Regions from separate parts of the Homo sapiens genome. Here region 2 is linked to region 1. Evidence: fine-mapped expression QTL. A gene starts in region 1. The other region holds a variant in brackets. All regions are shown on one strand. Distances are from middle to middle.

The links. PIP is the estimated chance that this variant, and not a neighbour inherited with it, causes the effect.
Region 2: its variant is fine-mapped to the expression of KCNA1 in subcutaneous fat (GTEx, PIP 0.98).

Annotation. Positions count from the first base shown.
Region 1 is chr12:4,906,380-4,914,708 of GRCh38, forward strand. It overlaps KCNA1 (potassium voltage-gated channel subfamily A member 1), which reads left to right and starts at 3,526. Exons shown (of 2, transcript NM_000217.3): 1 at 3,526-4,093; 2 at 4,461-8,329. The coding sequence starts at 5,000. The coding sequence ends at 6,487. RefSeq lists enhancers at 157-1,356, 2,151-2,907 and a silencer at 4,908-5,047.
Region 2 is chr12:4,993,959-5,002,287 of GRCh38, forward strand. No RefSeq gene overlaps it. Among named protein-coding and RNA genes, the nearest start is that of KCNA5, 46 kb to the right of the region's middle. The variant A/G (reference allele first, on the strand shown) is at 4,351.

The sequences.
Region 1 (8,329 bases):
ATGCTTTAATGGGAGGTGTGAAGCCAGAACCATGAGAGGAAGAGAAAAGGAGAGTGAGACAGGGAAGGACAGGGTGCAGATCCAAGGAGAAGAGTTACCAAACTAGTTACTGCTTCATGAGTCACAAAGAGACACAGCCTTTTCATTAGACCATGTGGTTGCTTGGCCATGAAAATAATAAAGGTAGAGGGGATTTACCGACGAGCTCCATCCTAGCTTGCATCTCCCACTGGGCAAGCTCCTCTTGGTCCATTGAGCTAATGCACCCCTAGGTTTGTGTTACTCACCTAGGCCTTTTTGCAGTCTTGAGGAATCCAGATTCCACTCCTTGCAGTGCTGTCAACTTCAAGAGGCAGAACTCTGCCACCCATCGAGTTGACTTTTCCAGCAGCACCTGCAGTGGGGCAAGTGGCCATTGGACAAGACAATGGTGAGCTGGAGAGAATCTGAGGAGATGGCCTACGCTGCCCAATACAGTGACAACTAAGACACACAAGGTCTCAGACTTCAAGGAGCTCCTAAGCTGCCCAACACAGAAGATCTCAGAAGACACAGAAGATCTCAGACTTCAAGGAACTCACATCTAGGTAGGAGCGAAACTGTTTGGGACACTCCTGCAGTAAATGATATTACCATTTATCTGGTTATTAAGGCCACAAGCCTAGGAGACAGTCCTAAAACTTTTCTTTCCTCACATCCCAAATTCTGCCATCTCTATTTCAAAATGTAATTCTCTTCCAAAAACTCCTTACAAGCTCACCACAGTCTCCCTCATCTAAGCCAACATTGCTTATGCTACTTAGTAACCTCCAACCTTGTGTCTTGTTTCTAGTAGCCAGAATAATCTCCAAGAAATGCAAATCATATTGCTATATTGATGCATATCCTCCAGTAGGTTCCCATTGTACTCAGAATGAAATGAACTATTCTTACCATAGCCTTAGAGGCCCTGCATGATCTGGGCTCTGCCTGCCTTTCTGACCTACCTTTGATGACATTCTTTCTCAGTGACTTCTTTCTGGCCATACTGGCTCTCTTGTTTCCTGAATATGCTGAGTCTGTCCTTGCCTTGGGACCTTTGCTCTTACACCCATCCTTTCATCTTCCTGTTCCTTGCTCTCTCTTCTTGATGTTTTTTGTTCAAATGTTACTTCTGCAGAGAGGCCCTTCTTATCTGCAAACCTATATTTGTCACTTGCTGTGCCTGATTCTTAATTTTCTTTATCTAACACTATAATGTATGACGTATATGTTTATTGTCTGTATCTCCCACCAGAATATGAGCTCCATGAGACCTGGGACCTTATATGTCTCCATTCCAGTGCAAGGGCACCATCTGGCCCATAGCTGGGGCTGGGCAAATATTTGTTGAATTAATAAATATCTTCAGACCCTTACCAAGGGAGGACTTCCATCAAGAATGCTGAGTTCCAGTTAGCCAGGAGTGATGGCTTGTGCCTGTTGTCCTCCCAGTTACTCCAGAGGCTAAGGTGGGAGGATTGTTTGAGCCCAATACTTCAAGGTTGCGGTGAGCTATGATTACACTACTACACTCTGTCTCAAAGAAGAACAAGAGGAAGAAGAGGAAGAGGAAGAAGGAGGAGGAGGAGGAGAATGCTGAGTTCCCAGCTCACAATTTTCTTCCAGTCCCTTGGAGGTCCAGTCCTGCTGTAAACACATCTATCAGAGATGTGGAAGATTTCCTAATATGCCCCCCAATAAAACCCGGAATTTAGGAACCTGGGATCTCATCCAATCTGTGAATCCCTTGTAGTAAGGCAATCTCCTAATGCTGAGTCAGGGCACATGCATTCACAAGAAGCTAGGAAGATGACAGTCTTAGGGACATTTAAAGGAAGGCAATGGGTTATAGGAAGAGGGAGGTACAAGATAAGGACAGATAAAGTGGAGAATAGGGAAGCTCAGTAGTGCTAGGATATGGTCAGAAAACCCTTGTCTCGTAGGGTTATCCCCAGTAGGGTTCTAGCAGTGGCAGCAGCAACAAAACCAAAAGACTTGGCAGTACTTCAGCTGGGAGCTTCATATTTATATCTTTGTTTTTATTTTTAAATTTTTTTAAAAAATATATTTATTTGCATTAGAACAGCAGTGCAGAAAGGTAGGGATCCCTGGAGCTATTGAGATTGAGGGATATGCGTGTGGAAGGTGGGAAAGGGGAAGAGTTTAATATGGGAAGGAGGAGTATAAGAGAACTCATTGTTCATGAAAGAAAAGCTGGGGTACGGATCTGAAGGAGGGGAGGGAACATACACTTTTGTTTTTCTGAAAGGAATGCTGGCGTCTGAATCTGGAGGAAGGATTTAACTAGTTCCAGACAGGGACTGTTGCACTGCCTGGGCAATCCCGCAGGGGCCCCTGCTTTCCACTAGCCACAATAGAGCGGGAAGGATGCAATCATTGGCTTTGATTAAGGAGGTGGGTGGTGTAGGCGGGAGGCAACGGTGGTGAGAAGGGTGGTCCCAAGGCCGCGGGAGGAGCCAATCAGCGGCGACTCTGGGCTCTTGCAGCCTCCTTAGAGACTCCGCAGCCCTGGAGGTACCAAGCTGCCTGCTGCCTTTTCTCGCGCTGCAGGCGCGGAGATGCAGCGCCTCTGGGGGCGCAGCTCCAGCCGCACTCGCAGGGCAAGGCACACGCCCCCGGCTCCTGCTGCCATGCGCCTCTGCGGGGGACCCTTTCCAAATAAATTGCAAGCTTTGAAAGTGGCCCTGTGGAGGCACTAGGCTGGGGAAAAAGGCTGCGGGAGGAGGGACATAGGGTGGGAGGTGAGTAGGCGACTTGCTTCTCAGATTATTCCCAATTAGCACCAAGTTGGCAGACAACCCCACAAACCCACGAAGCCTTCGGTCCCCCACAAGTCACATTCCCTGTATTTCAGAATAATCGGATCGTAAGAAAACTTCAAGTCCCATCGTAGGTTAAAGAGGGACAGGCTCTTAGTACCGCCGCCGCCCAGTAAAACTACATGGAACAAACCCAGGGATCCTCATCTGCACAGCTCTGCCCAAAGTCTGCAGCTCTGCGAGTCCAGCCGGCGGGGGAAGCTGGGTGGGCCCCGCAGAGAGCAAGGGCCTTCTTGGGGGAGGAGCGGGATGGGGCGCAGAGCAGTGCGATCGAAGAGGGTTACTGTGGGACTGCACAAAAGCAAACCCGTCGGAGGAGTTTTGCCAGAAACACCACCGCCTGCATTGCGTCGGACCTGACCATTTCCAATGTGAAATTCCCGGGGAAGGTCGCGAGCCGCTAGGGGCCGTTCGTGGGCGGGGCGGCGGGCCACAGGGGAAGTAGAGTTAGCGGTCGGCTTTTCTGGTAGGAGAGGAAAAAGCTGTGCTGGCAAGGGTGGGAACTGAATGACAACCCCGCTCTCTTCCAAACCACCCCCTCATATTTTCCATCCACCTCCTCGCTCCTGCCCTCCCCCGCCCTCCCCAACCCACGCCCGGGTGGGCCAATCGCTGCTCGGTATTCCAGGCGCTTTCTCAGGTTTCTGCTGATCTTGCAGCGCCCAGAAATGGACCGAGCGGACCCGCCGCCGCACGCACCCTGCTCCACTCCAAGCTCCTAAGGGCTCCTGGCGCGCCGCGTAGCCTTGGCGAGGTCCGCGCTGGGGTGCGGAGAGCGAAGGGAACTGGAGAGCCATGTAGATCCAGGCTCTCGCCCGCCCGCCTCCTTCGGGATCGAATCAAGGGCTCCCATAGTGTTAGGAGGGGGCGAGAGTGCTGTTTATCGTCATTTGCCTCGGAGCTTCGAGAGAGGGTGGTATTTTGCTTTTCCGCCCCGCATCCTCCGGAACTCCCTGCACCGGAGAGAGGACGGCGTCTCCAGGTTGCTGGCAACCGGTGAGAATGGGGGTAGGGAAGGAACATTTTCGCCGTAGCTGCTCCGTAAAGCGATTGTCCAACTGAGAGGGGCGTCGGACGAGTGGACCAGGGCGGCGAGTTTGCCCGGCGCGTCTCGGATGCTGCTGCGGCGGCCGCCGCGGCTCCCGCCAGGGCACTGCAAAGACGACCTGCCGCATTCCCACTCGGGCTCTCCGCTGACTCAGCACCGCCCCTGCGCCAAGCCAGCCGGCCAGGTAGGGGGTTCCCCAGCTCGGGGATGCAGAAGCGGGGGTTGGGGGGACCGGGTGGGGGAGGCCGGGGGTGCGGGGATGCTGTCCGGGACCCTGAGCTTCCCCCGGCGTCTCTCGGCGCTTTTCCGATCTCTAGTTTAACGAAGTTGTAAACAGATCGGCTGTTGGGCATTGGGGAAAGTGGGATGGAAGAGCCCCAAACTTGGATTTCCGGGTGTCTGCGTGTCGTCTGTCCGTGTGTGTGTGATAGCCCTAGCAAACGTCCAGTGCTTTCTCAAGCTAGAGGTCTGTGTTCTTCGGTGTCTGTAGGTCCGTCCCATCTGAATGCTTCTGATTTTCTACCCCCGTATCACTTTCTATTTCTCTGCAGCGTGCATCGATCGCCCTGGTGGGAGCTTAGAAGGCGGCAGGCGAAGAGGGGTAGGAGGGGGGAGAGCCGAGGAGAAGCAGAGAGGGTGGCAGGCGTGGGGATCTGCCGAGCCGGCACTGCACCGGGTCCTAGGAAGGCTCTCGGAGGGGAGGGGAGGCCAGGGCGACCCCCGAAGCAATGGCCCAGTCCGCTAGAACGGCACTGCGTTAAGGCACCTGGGATCAGGAAGAAATATCTAAACAACAACAACAGAAAACCAACAAACCCCCAAACCCAAACCCAACCCTCTGCAAAAAGCTGCACCCGGCCCGCAGGCGAGGGGGATTCCAAACTGAGTGAAAGGCAGGGTGGAGGGGAAGGCAGCGAGAGGCAAAGTCGCAGATCTCCCGACCTGCTCGTGTTGAAGCACCTCCCCCTGGGCGTGAGGGAGACGCGCGCTCCGGTGGGGGGGCCGCTTGGGTCCCCCCCACCCCTGGTCCCTGGCTGCTTCCCACCCCGGGCTCTCTCCTGGCCTCCCACCCCCGCGCCCGGCTTCCACCATGACGGTGATGTCTGGGGAGAACGTGGACGAGGCTTCGGCCGCCCCGGGCCACCCCCAGGATGGCAGCTACCCCCGGCAGGCCGACCACGACGACCACGAGTGCTGCGAGCGCGTGGTGATCAACATCTCCGGGCTGCGCTTCGAGACGCAGCTCAAGACCCTGGCGCAGTTCCCCAACACGCTGCTGGGCAACCCTAAGAAACGCATGCGCTACTTCGACCCCCTGAGGAACGAGTACTTCTTCGACCGCAACCGGCCCAGCTTCGACGCCATCCTCTACTACTACCAGTCCGGCGGCCGCCTGCGGAGGCCGGTCAACGTGCCCCTGGACATGTTCTCCGAGGAGATCAAGTTTTACGAGTTGGGCGAGGAGGCCATGGAGAAGTTCCGGGAGGACGAGGGCTTCATCAAGGAGGAGGAGCGCCCTCTGCCCGAGAAGGAGTACCAGCGCCAGGTGTGGCTGCTCTTCGAGTACCCCGAGAGCTCGGGGCCCGCCAGGGTCATCGCCATCGTCTCCGTCATGGTCATCCTCATCTCCATCGTCATCTTTTGCCTGGAGACGCTCCCCGAGCTGAAGGATGACAAGGACTTCACGGGCACCGTCCACCGCATCGACAACACCACGGTCATCTACAATTCCAACATCTTCACAGACCCCTTCTTCATCGTGGAAACGCTGTGTATCATCTGGTTCTCCTTCGAGCTGGTGGTGCGCTTCTTCGCCTGCCCCAGCAAGACGGACTTCTTCAAAAACATCATGAACTTCATAGACATTGTGGCCATCATTCCTTATTTCATCACGCTGGGCACCGAGATAGCTGAGCAGGAAGGAAACCAGAAGGGCGAGCAGGCCACCTCCCTGGCCATCCTCAGGGTCATCCGCTTGGTAAGGGTTTTTAGAATCTTCAAGCTCTCCCGCCACTCTAAGGGCCTCCAGATCCTGGGCCAGACCCTCAAAGCTAGTATGAGAGAGCTAGGGCTGCTCATCTTTTTCCTCTTCATCGGGGTCATCCTGTTTTCTAGTGCAGTGTACTTTGCCGAGGCGGAAGAAGCTGAGTCGCACTTCTCCAGTATCCCCGATGCTTTCTGGTGGGCGGTGGTGTCCATGACCACTGTAGGATACGGTGACATGTACCCTGTGACAATTGGAGGCAAGATCGTGGGCTCCTTGTGTGCCATCGCTGGTGTGCTAACAATTGCCCTGCCCGTACCTGTCATTGTGTCCAATTTCAACTATTTCTACCACCGAGAAACTGAGGGGGAAGAGCAGGCTCAGTTGCTCCACGTCAGTTCCCCTAACTTAGCCTCTGACAGTGACCTCAGTCGCCGCAGTTCCTCTACTATGAGCAAGTCTGAGTACATGGAGATCGAAGAGGATATGAATAATAGCATAGCCCATTATAGACAGGTCAATATCAGAACTGCCAATTGCACCACTGCTAACCAAAACTGCGTTAATAAGAGCAAGCTACTGACCGATGTTTAAAAAACAAAGGCAAGCAAACAAAAAAGCCCCACTTAGCAGCTCAAAAGACTTAAAAAACAAAACAGAAAACCTAGTGACTCATGTCACGCTTTGTAGATACTTTACTAAGTAGACTTGGAATGCTCTATTTAACTGTCAATGCGTTGTTGCATTGAGGATTTTGGGGGTGGTGAACCAGAAGCTTTCAAGATCCATGACAAAATAAACTATTTTCCTTTTATTAAAAAATGGGAAAAGAGAGAGTATTTTCTAAAACTGGCTTAAAAAGATTCAGTCCACGAACTAGTCTAGGTAAAATAATAATCATATGCTTCCCCAAACTGAAACATTTTTAATGCTTTGGTTTCTTTAACTTTTTTAAAAACTCAGAACAAGATGATCACTTAGAAATATGAAATTGAAATTCGCATGGGACTCCAGTAAAACATCTTTGCAAACTGCGTAGCACATTGAAGACAGTGCATCAGATGTATTATATGTAACATGATAGACCAGCCAAAATGGACAATGAATAGATATTTTTATTTCGATCAACTGAACTGCATATTACAAGGTGAAAAAAGAAAACTCCGATTACTTAAGACTGGTTCACAAAGCACCTTATAAATTGGATACTGGTCCTGATCTGTAGGGATTTCCCCCTGGGCCCATTCTCTTTCTAATCCAGATTATTCTCTAAGAAAAAGTTAACTGAATTAAATTAATTGATTCTTCTGCAGTGCCGCTAAATGGTCTCAACTGCAGATGAGCCAAATACAGGTCTTTTCTCACCAGGCCTGCACTCCGACCCCTGGCTTTCAGAACTGGATGTAAAACCTTAGCCTCCTTATTGCAAGAGAGCACAAATGAAGTTAAATGTAAGCATGTTTGAATCTGATACAATTTATTTTATAATCGCATGCTGAGAAGTTAACCCAGACAATAGGGGATAAGCTTAAGTTGAAATCGATTCTTCTAAAAATAGATCCTTTTTCATTTGCATTCACCAAAAGTGCACTCCTCCATTTATTAACTATTTTATTAGTAAATAAAGTACTGTATTTAAGTGCATATGTTAGTCAGATGGGAACAATAACTTTTTGGAGCTCAAAGCATGTTCTCTTATTCAGCATTATGGCCTATTTGACTAAGATGTACCTTGAATTAATTAATGCATGATTTCAGTAATAAAAATTTTAAAAGTAATAAAAATTACAAGTCTGTGGGGTGAAAGGCCCAATAGAAATTATGGGGGGTGGGGGTGGGGGCACTCAGTCAATTTTCCTGCCTTTGCTCAGGGAAATACCAGGTTTTTGTGCAGGTATAGGCGGAGAGAGGACCAATATGCCCATCCCTTAAAGGGAAGCCATGTGAAAAACTCAATAAGTCATCAAAGTACATATAGCAACACCTAAGAACAAGTATTCTTTCTAGCTGAAGACAAACACAAGCAACACAAACAAGCAAACAAACAAACAAACAAAAAGGTGCAATACTGCATGTTTTTTGGTGCATTCTTAGGATGTAAATGAAAATGTTTCTCTATTATATGCATCCGAAGCAGAGCTGATTTTTTTTTCTTTGCAGTCATTCTTTGAAGTCTGTAGAGACTTCAGCCCTCCCCTTGAGGCTCCCTGAAGAAACTAAACCAATTGATTTAATAGTTGCTTAGTGCCTTTATCCTGTACCCACAGTGAACTGTAGAAAGTGCCTCCTTAACACAGCTGAGAAGTTAGGTAGCAAAAGTGGGGAAGGGTTGGGGCACAGACCTTTTGCTTTTTCTTTTTCCATTCTCGCTCTCTCATTTCACCACTGTGAGAAGACCACACCACCCTAAACCCTGGAGAGGAGAGACCCAGGAGG
Region 2 (8,329 bases), 88 kb after region 1:
GGCACATTGGAGATCACAGAGAAGCACTGTGTCCCCAGCTTCTCTAGGGGACCCCAGAGTCTGTTGGGGAATGCCAAGAGGCATCGTGAAAAAATTCACTGTTCTTATCAGGCAGTAACTGCCAGTGCCCGGTGATCAGCTGGCCAAGCTCCTGGAGACTATAGACCAGGAGTTAGCTGGGAACCTGTTTTCTCCTTGTGTGTTTCATGACATTAATTTCAGTAGGAGAAATCCCAACTGGATGTGCTAGGTCTTCCAGCAGCAACAATTTTTAAACCTGGGGAAGGAGTTTTTTTCGTTGTTGTTTGTTTTGTTTGTTTTTATTTTTGAGACAGAGTCTTGCTCTTTCACCAGGCTGGAGTCCAGTGGCACCGTCTTGGCTCACTGCAGCCTCCGCCTCCTGGGTTTAAGCTATTCTCCTGCCTCAGCCTCCTGAGTAGCTGGGACTACAGGAGCCTGCCACCACGCCTGGCTAGTTTTCGAATTTTTTAGTAGAGACGGGGTTTCAACATGTTGGCCAGGATGGTCTCGATCTCCTGATCTCAGGTAATCCACCCACCTCAGCCTCCCAAAGTGCTGGGATTACAGGCGTGAGCCACCACACCCGACTGGGGAAGGAGTTTTTAAGGAAGTTGAGAGAGATTTGGGGGGAGGAGGGATTATTCTTTCCCTCTTAAATCTTGGATCCAAGGAACTTGTGTTTGTTAGAAAGAAGAGTCGTGATGCCTTTTGTCCCAAGGACTTCACTTGACATTAAATAGCTACCTGAACTGGAGCACACAGTTCACACTCACATGTGCACATGGTACAGGCTGAACCACTGCCATCGCTCTTGCTTCCCCCAGGACTTCACCCTGCCTAGGCTCCCAGCCAGTGGAATCTCTGACATCCACGGGCCTTCCTGGGCACAATCAGTGCTTGTTACTATTAGAGTCCTCTCCTGATCACCTGCGGGATACACTCAGCCTTGACATGGTTTCTGCTTTGCTTGTGACAGTGGTGCACAGCTCAGCCTCCTCTCTCCAGTGAAGCCACCCATTCTTAAAGAGTGCCCAAAGCTGCATTATAGCTCTGCTGTCTGTCTTCCCTCCTTTAGCCTCCCACAGCCTTCTTCAAAATCTATTTGAAAATAATCTTATCTCCTCTACATCTCCCAGACCGTCTGAAGCACTGTTGCTTAAAGGAATGAGCTCCAACTTTGGGGAAAGACAAGCATCCTTTTGGAGCAGGGCTTGGCCACTTGCTAGCTGTGTGACTTTTGGTGGGTAACTTGACCTCTCTGAGCTTCAACTTCTTCTTCTGTGAAACAGGGTGGATGTGAATGTTACAGGGTGACATGGCCAAAGCATCTAGTATGGTGTCTGGCACATGGTGGGGAGTTGTTATTTTTAATGCACCCCCTTCATTTTCTGATATGTGCACAGCTTGCACTAGCACAGAGTTAATTTAGCTTATGCTGCCATTTTATGTATGTGTTTTATGAGCCAGCACTTTGTTAGTCACTTTCAATAGAGGTTATCTCATTTAACCCTCCCAACTGTTTGTGTGATGTCGATGCTATTTTCTCCATTTTCTAGATAGAATAACTGAGGCTAGAGACCAGGCATGTGAAACGGGGTTCTCTAAGGACTCCACTAGCCCCTTTCCATCCCCTCCCACATCTGCTTCATGCTTATTTGCTTATCTCAAGGGAGATGACACAAATGAGAAGACACAATCCCTGTCCTCAGAGAGCCCAGAGTCCAGGAAAACCAAGAATGTCAGCAAGAACTCTAACCAAGCTTCAGGGAAAACAGACTCAGGTGCCTGTGGGCTGATCAGGCATGGCAGTGTACAGCAGGTGGTGAGGCAGTAGAGAAGGCATGGGCCCAGGTCCTCCAAGATGAGCTTCATGTAGCCTTGGACAACATGGGCACCAGAATAAAGGTCAATGGACCAAGAATCAAGGGGAGGAGAATTCCATATGGAGAGCCAAATGCACCCTCAAGAGACATAAGCAAATAAGCATGAAGCAGATGTGGGAGGGGATGGAAACGGGCTAGCGGAGTACTCAGCACCAGCAGAATGTGTGTGCTGGGATGGGGGTTCCGGGCTCAGGAATGGATTAAAAGGAAACCCATAGCTCTGTTGTCAAGGAGCTTGCAGTTTGATTGGTGGGAAGTTGAGCATTGAGAGAGAGAGAGAGAGAGAGGAGAGAGAATTGCATACACTTGCATGAGGGCAGGGACTGTGCTTTTCAATTTCTATTGGAGCGTCTTGCCTGTAGCATGCAATGCATCCCAGGTCTCTGGCCTGGCAAGTTCCTCAACCAAGTCACCTCTATGGAGAGCAGGAGGCAGCAAAGACTTGCAGACTTGCAGGCAAGTCAAGGGGCAGAAGTTGCTTTCTGCTTCTCAAGGTGAGAGGTGCAGGCCTTTGCTGGGGCACTTCTGGGAGGCTCCTTTTTGTGGCTAAGCTACCTGCCAACAAGGATGATTTCTCCAGGTATAAAGCTTTACACTAAGTTATGAGGGAGGCAGAAAAATGAGAAGACACAATCCCTGTCCTCAGAGAGCCCAGAGTCCAGGAAAGCCAAGAATGTCAACAAGAACCCTAACCAACCTTCAGGGAAAACAGACTCAAACACCTGTGGGCCGACTGGGCATGACAGTGTACAGCGGGTGGCAGGGAAGTGGAGAAAGGGTGAGCCAGGGTCCTCCAAGATGAGCTTCATATAGCTTTGGACGACACAGGCACTAGAATGGAAGGAAATGGGCCAAAAATCAAGGGGAGAAGAATTCCATACGGAGAGCCAAATGCAGCCTTTTAAAAATTAGGGCCACAATAGAGAAAAGGGAGGAGGAAGAGGGGAAAGGTATGAGGGAGAAATCAATATCCTGACTGTATTGGCAAGAAGCTGGTAGGTCTATTAAGCGACCCAGAGGATCCTGGTGACAAAGTGAAGTGACAGTTTGGAGAAGTGAAAACACAAAACAAAACCACGGGCTCTGGGCTTGACTTCAAGTCCTGCTGTTGGTGTTGGCCATCCAGTCATGGACAAGTCACTTACCTCTCGGCCTCTATCTCCTCTCCTTGACCATTGGGTAATGGCACCCACCTTGCAGGTCAGTGAGAAAGAAAGGAGCTTGCTTCAGGGTGACCTTTGTCCTTTCCAGAGCTGTGGAATCCAGCCAGGTGTGGTGTTCCTCTACTATGACCTGACCCAGTTCTGACCCAGTTAAGAAGTATAAAATACAAGCCAACTTTACATCCCTTTCCTGTTTTTTGTTTGTTTGTTTTTTTGTTTGTTTTTAAATTAGAACAATTCTTGAAGTAGGCATCTCATTTTTGAATGGTAAACTGAGGCGCAGTCAAGCGTACCAATGGCCTTTATCCCACACTGTGTAGGAATTGAAGCGCTGGGATGCAGCCTTCCTGCTCCAGACCTGAGGGCTTTGCATCCGAATGTGCCTGAGAATTCCCTGGGGCCCAGTGAAGAGCTGGTTCTTTGGACCCACCCAGAGGAGGGTGCAGACTTGGAATGGGGCTAGAGTCTTCATTGCTCATATGCTCTCCGGGGTCTTCTGACCCAGGGGGCCCAGGGACCACACTTGAGAGCCTTTGCTTTAGACCCCATATGTTCTTCCTTCATCTGTGGTCCTTCCTCTCTCATGACACAGAGCATCTTTCACGGATGCTCTCTTTTTCTGCCCTGCCCAGGCTCCTGGCCCCAGCATGTTCTGGTGGCACTCTCTGAAAACCCCTGCCCTGGCCATCTGTCATGGCCAGAGGCGGCCAATGGATGGGGTCCAGGCTGGTGAGCTGCCTACATTGCCAAGAGGGGACCCTTGGAGGGCTTATAGGCGGCTGAGCCAGGGACTCTGGATCTTGCCCTTCTCTCTTTCCCCCATGGTGAGGTGCTTGGGGCAAGGCTGAGCCAGAACTTCCCTGGAACTTCTCTGCTGAGCATGACTTGGCCGCCCTCTTTCCCTGAGCCTTCTGCTTCGGGGCGCTAATCTTACTTCCTCTGGCATTAGTCTCCCAGTCTCTTGCCTCCCTTGAGCTCTCTTGCTCTTTCTCCCAATCTCCTGTCTGATCTCACCCCACTGCGATCCCCAGCACCCAGCCTGCCAGAATGGAGCTGGGAGGCAGTGACTAATGTGCTTGGAGGTGAGTCATCTACTAAATATAAAAACCCACTCACATCCCTGGATGCAAAAGATTCCGAGAGACTCCGTGTCCTTCCCCCTAAATCCACCCTTCCTCAGGGGACTGAGAGAAGTTGATTCGTGAACAGAAAACAAATGCCAAGGAGCAGCCACAGCAGCATCATCTCATTGCCCTCAGCTCCTCCCGCAGATCTCTAAAGGC[A/G]GGAATTTCCCTGTCTCTCTAGTTGCTCTAGAAGGAAGGAGTAGGGTTGGGAAGACCGTGATCCCCACCCTCCGTGGAGTTACGAAGGCAGCAAAATTGATCTTCAGGACCTCTCCCTCTCTTCTTTCTGCCCACTTTCTTGTTTAGGAGACCTCAGACTGCCCAGCCTCCTGCAAATGTAAAGATGAGTCTTTTAAATACATTGATATCTTGCAGGTCTTGGCCGTGCCTCACTGTATGTGATTGAATTGATGGGTTTCAGGTATGGGCCCTACCTTTGGACAGGTGCCCTCCCTTAGGGTCATTCAGTTCCCGCTACAGAGAGTGCATCTTGCTGGGCTTGACTGCTGTGAGTCTTTGTTCACATGGGAATAGGGGTCCTCTGTGCATGCGTGCATGTGTGTGTGTAATACCACGTATAGATTTATTTTTATTTTTTTATTTTTGTGTGTACATAGTTGGTGTATATGTTTATGGAGTGCACTTGATGAAGGTATACAATGCGTCGTGGTCACAGGTCAGGGTAAAATGGGGCATCCATCACCTCAGGCATTTACCCTTTGTGTTACAAACAATCTAATTATACTATTTTAGTTATTTTTAAATGTACAATTGAATTAATATTGACTACAGTCACTCTGTTGTGGTATCAAATACTGGATCTTACTCATTCTTTCTAACTATTTTTTGTACCCATTAACCATCCCCACTTCCCCCTTGCCACCCAACCGCAGGACTTGAAGTCTGAAAAGCTGAGTTCTAGTCCTCAGACAGGAACTAACTTCCTCTGTGACTTTAGACAAGTGTCTTCACCTCTCTGGGCTTCATCCTCCTAAAATCTGTTTGTAATGGAGTCTTACTAAATGCTCTTGGAGGCCTAGCCCATCCCTTTCTGTAATCACCACATACCCTTTGCTTACATGGAGGGTGGTCTGAAGGTCTCTCTCTGGGGAAGAAGCACAGGTGGCCTCCCTGGCCATGTGCCTCACAGGTATGTACCTGTGCACACATGCGATGTGGGGAAAACACCAACTGATGGCCTGACAAGCATTCACTCTCATATCCATGGTGCAGTCACTGCAGCCTGGAACAAAGAGAAAACGCAGTTCTCACCTTTCGAGGACTGTGATCTGAAATCGGATGGCACATCTTCTCATGTGAAATGTGAACTTGATTCCCTCTCCATCTTTTCATTTTTCTTTCTCTTTATGTTTTTCCATTCTCAGGCTTTTTGAAAGGCAGAGGAAAGACCATTTCAGTGGAGGTTAGAAGGTATGAGTAGTAATACAGGGAGATAGAAAAAGACGAAGAAGAAATGTGACAAATAAGCATTGTGCCTCTAGACTCCACAGGACTAAGCTCTGGTCTCTGCTGGGCCACTGTGTGACTTTAGACCCAGCGCCTGCCCTCTCTGGGCATGCACTGAACAGGAGGGCTTGAATGAGGTTTCCTTTAGCCAAAACATTCTAAAATTATGAGGTTACACAATTGAGGCATGGAGGAGAGAGAACCAGCCCTTGGGTGATGCTTACCATGAATGAACAATCTAAAAAGTCCCTGAGGATGAGCATCACTTTATTTTTAATAACTAAAATAATAAGTCATTCTTCTTTTGGCTCATTCAAAATGTATTTGTCTAGTGCCAATGAGTTTCAAACCTCCAAAGCGGCTGCCTGTCATAGGTGGGGTCTTTGTGGATGGGTCGCATGCCGCACTAAATGTTATGGAATTACCAGAGCAGACTGGCACATAAGCATTTCCTGATGCCATCAATGAGGTTTCTGAGAAGTGGTTTGCTCAGGTCGCATGGCTAACTTGTGGCCCAGCCCTACAGAGGACAATTACTTCCTGCTCTCCGTGAAGCTGGGCCAGTCTTTACCCTGTGGATCAACCAGGTTTACTCAGCAGGCCCTCGTCCTCTCTGACTTGGGGATGGGGAGAGTGAAGAGCTAGTAACCTTCTCCCAACCTTTATGCATCCTGGTAGATCTGTGGCTAGGCAAAATGTGCTTCCCTCTGGAACCTGCTTCTCTGGAACACAGCTCCTAGGTGGCAGTATTGGTGAAGGGATCTACACAGCTTGCTGTGTACACTGCCTCAAGGGGCACCACTGGCGTGCATTCTGTCTGGAGGCTCCATGGTTCTGCTCTGTGCCCCCCTCACCTCTCTGGTAACGATGCTCAGGGAATTTCAGGGTCCACCTTGCTGTCCTGGGACAGAGTCCTGGTGGTGATCTGGAGGTCCAGGGCACAGAGGAAGCAGAATGCTTTTTATCTGTGTCTAGATTTCTCCTTTTTCCTCCTACTGGTAGCCCCAGCAGAAGCCACCTGGAACTTAGCTCTCCAATTCACACATTGAAAGACACTTTGAGGGGTCACCTGGATTCCTTCCCCCAACCCAGGGAGAAGATCCAGACTCATTCAATGACCACAGCCTCTGAGGGCAGAGGAGGACAAGCTGCTGCCCTCGGGTGGCCTGGACTTCCCACTCCGAGCGAGTGGCTACAGCTGCAGCAGGCTCTGCAGTCCTCTTTGCATTCACATGCTCTTCCCTCTTCCCCTCAGCAGGGGCTGTGGCCGCCTCTTTCAGGGTCAGAGAGTCCTCTGGCTCCCCTTGCAGAGGCAAGAGAAAGAGGATCACAGCATTTTCATGCTCTGGAGCAACAGTGACCTGTATATCTGGAGGCTCTGGAGAGCTATTTTGTCAAAACTGAGCAAGCATGCCACCAGTTCCTTCATCCGGCAACATTTTTGAGCACCTACTATGTGCCAGCCATTTTCCCCATGCTGAAAATGCACTTGGTCACAGCAGGAGGCCTCTGTGTATTGTGAACTCATGAATGAGACCCAGCCCCGGGAGGTGCGTACCCATGTGCTCCTGTCAATCTGGCTGATAGTGCATGGCAAAACTCAGAGCAGCAATCTCCTGGCCTTCCTCCTCTGCCCCAGTTAATTAGGGAGAATAGTGCTGTGACCTACTCACAGTGGTGAACAAGAGAAGGTTTGGGGGACTTCGAGTGCCTTAGAGAAAGAAGCACCCACCTACAAAGTGTTTCCTGCAATTGCAGCAGGAAAGGCAACTATGATGGCTTGAGCCCAGTTAAGAGCAGACACCTCAGATAAAGAAATGGGATGCTGTCTTCCCAGGGAGAGAGAAGCCTATGCCTCAGCTGGTCAGGAGAATACAGGCTTGCTGCAAGTTGGTTCTACCCAGTGTGGGCTGCTAGGGAGGTTGAGCAGTTCAGAGACATGGAGCCCCACGGCCACTGTGTCTCCTGGGAACACAAACCTGGCTCCTAGCACGAGAAGCAGCAATGGAGAAGGGAGAACTCTGTGGCTGCAGGTGCTCTGTGACTCTGCCCTCCGAGGAGCCCATGGTTGGCCTGGGAGCCTTTGCCTCGTAGAGCCTCATCCTAACATTGAGGTCATCTCCAAGCTACCGAGTGAAAGAAGTATACCCCAATGCAAGCAGCGTTAGCACCCAGCATTTGCATTCTGTGCATGGCTGCTCTTCCCATCATCGGGGGCTGAACTGCTCAGGTTCATGGACACCCACCTCGCAGCTCCCTGCTAGGGCCTAGGACAGTGCTGGTGCCTAGCCAAGTCCATTTCTGTTGCATTGAATTGAAATGAGTTAGGGGCTGAGGGGAAAAAAAAAAGAAAAAGGCTTGTGATTTGTCCCATGGAAACTCATGTTATTCTTGCCAAAATCTTTGAAAAAGAGAAGCAGAGTGTGCACATTTTTTAAGGGTTACAGTCTTGTTTTTTTTTTACATCTCAGACTTTTCACATCAGGCCTAAGAGGAGCAGGCTAATGGGTATCTTGGAGGGCTGGATGAAGGGTAGCGGGGTCATGGCCACCCCCTCTGCAGGGCAGGAACCAGAGCAACAGAAGTAACAGAGAAATAGAAGAGCCTGGACATGTGCTGGTCTTTAGGGGAATCAGGAGATGGAGGAACAGTGTGGCCCCTCCTCTTATCC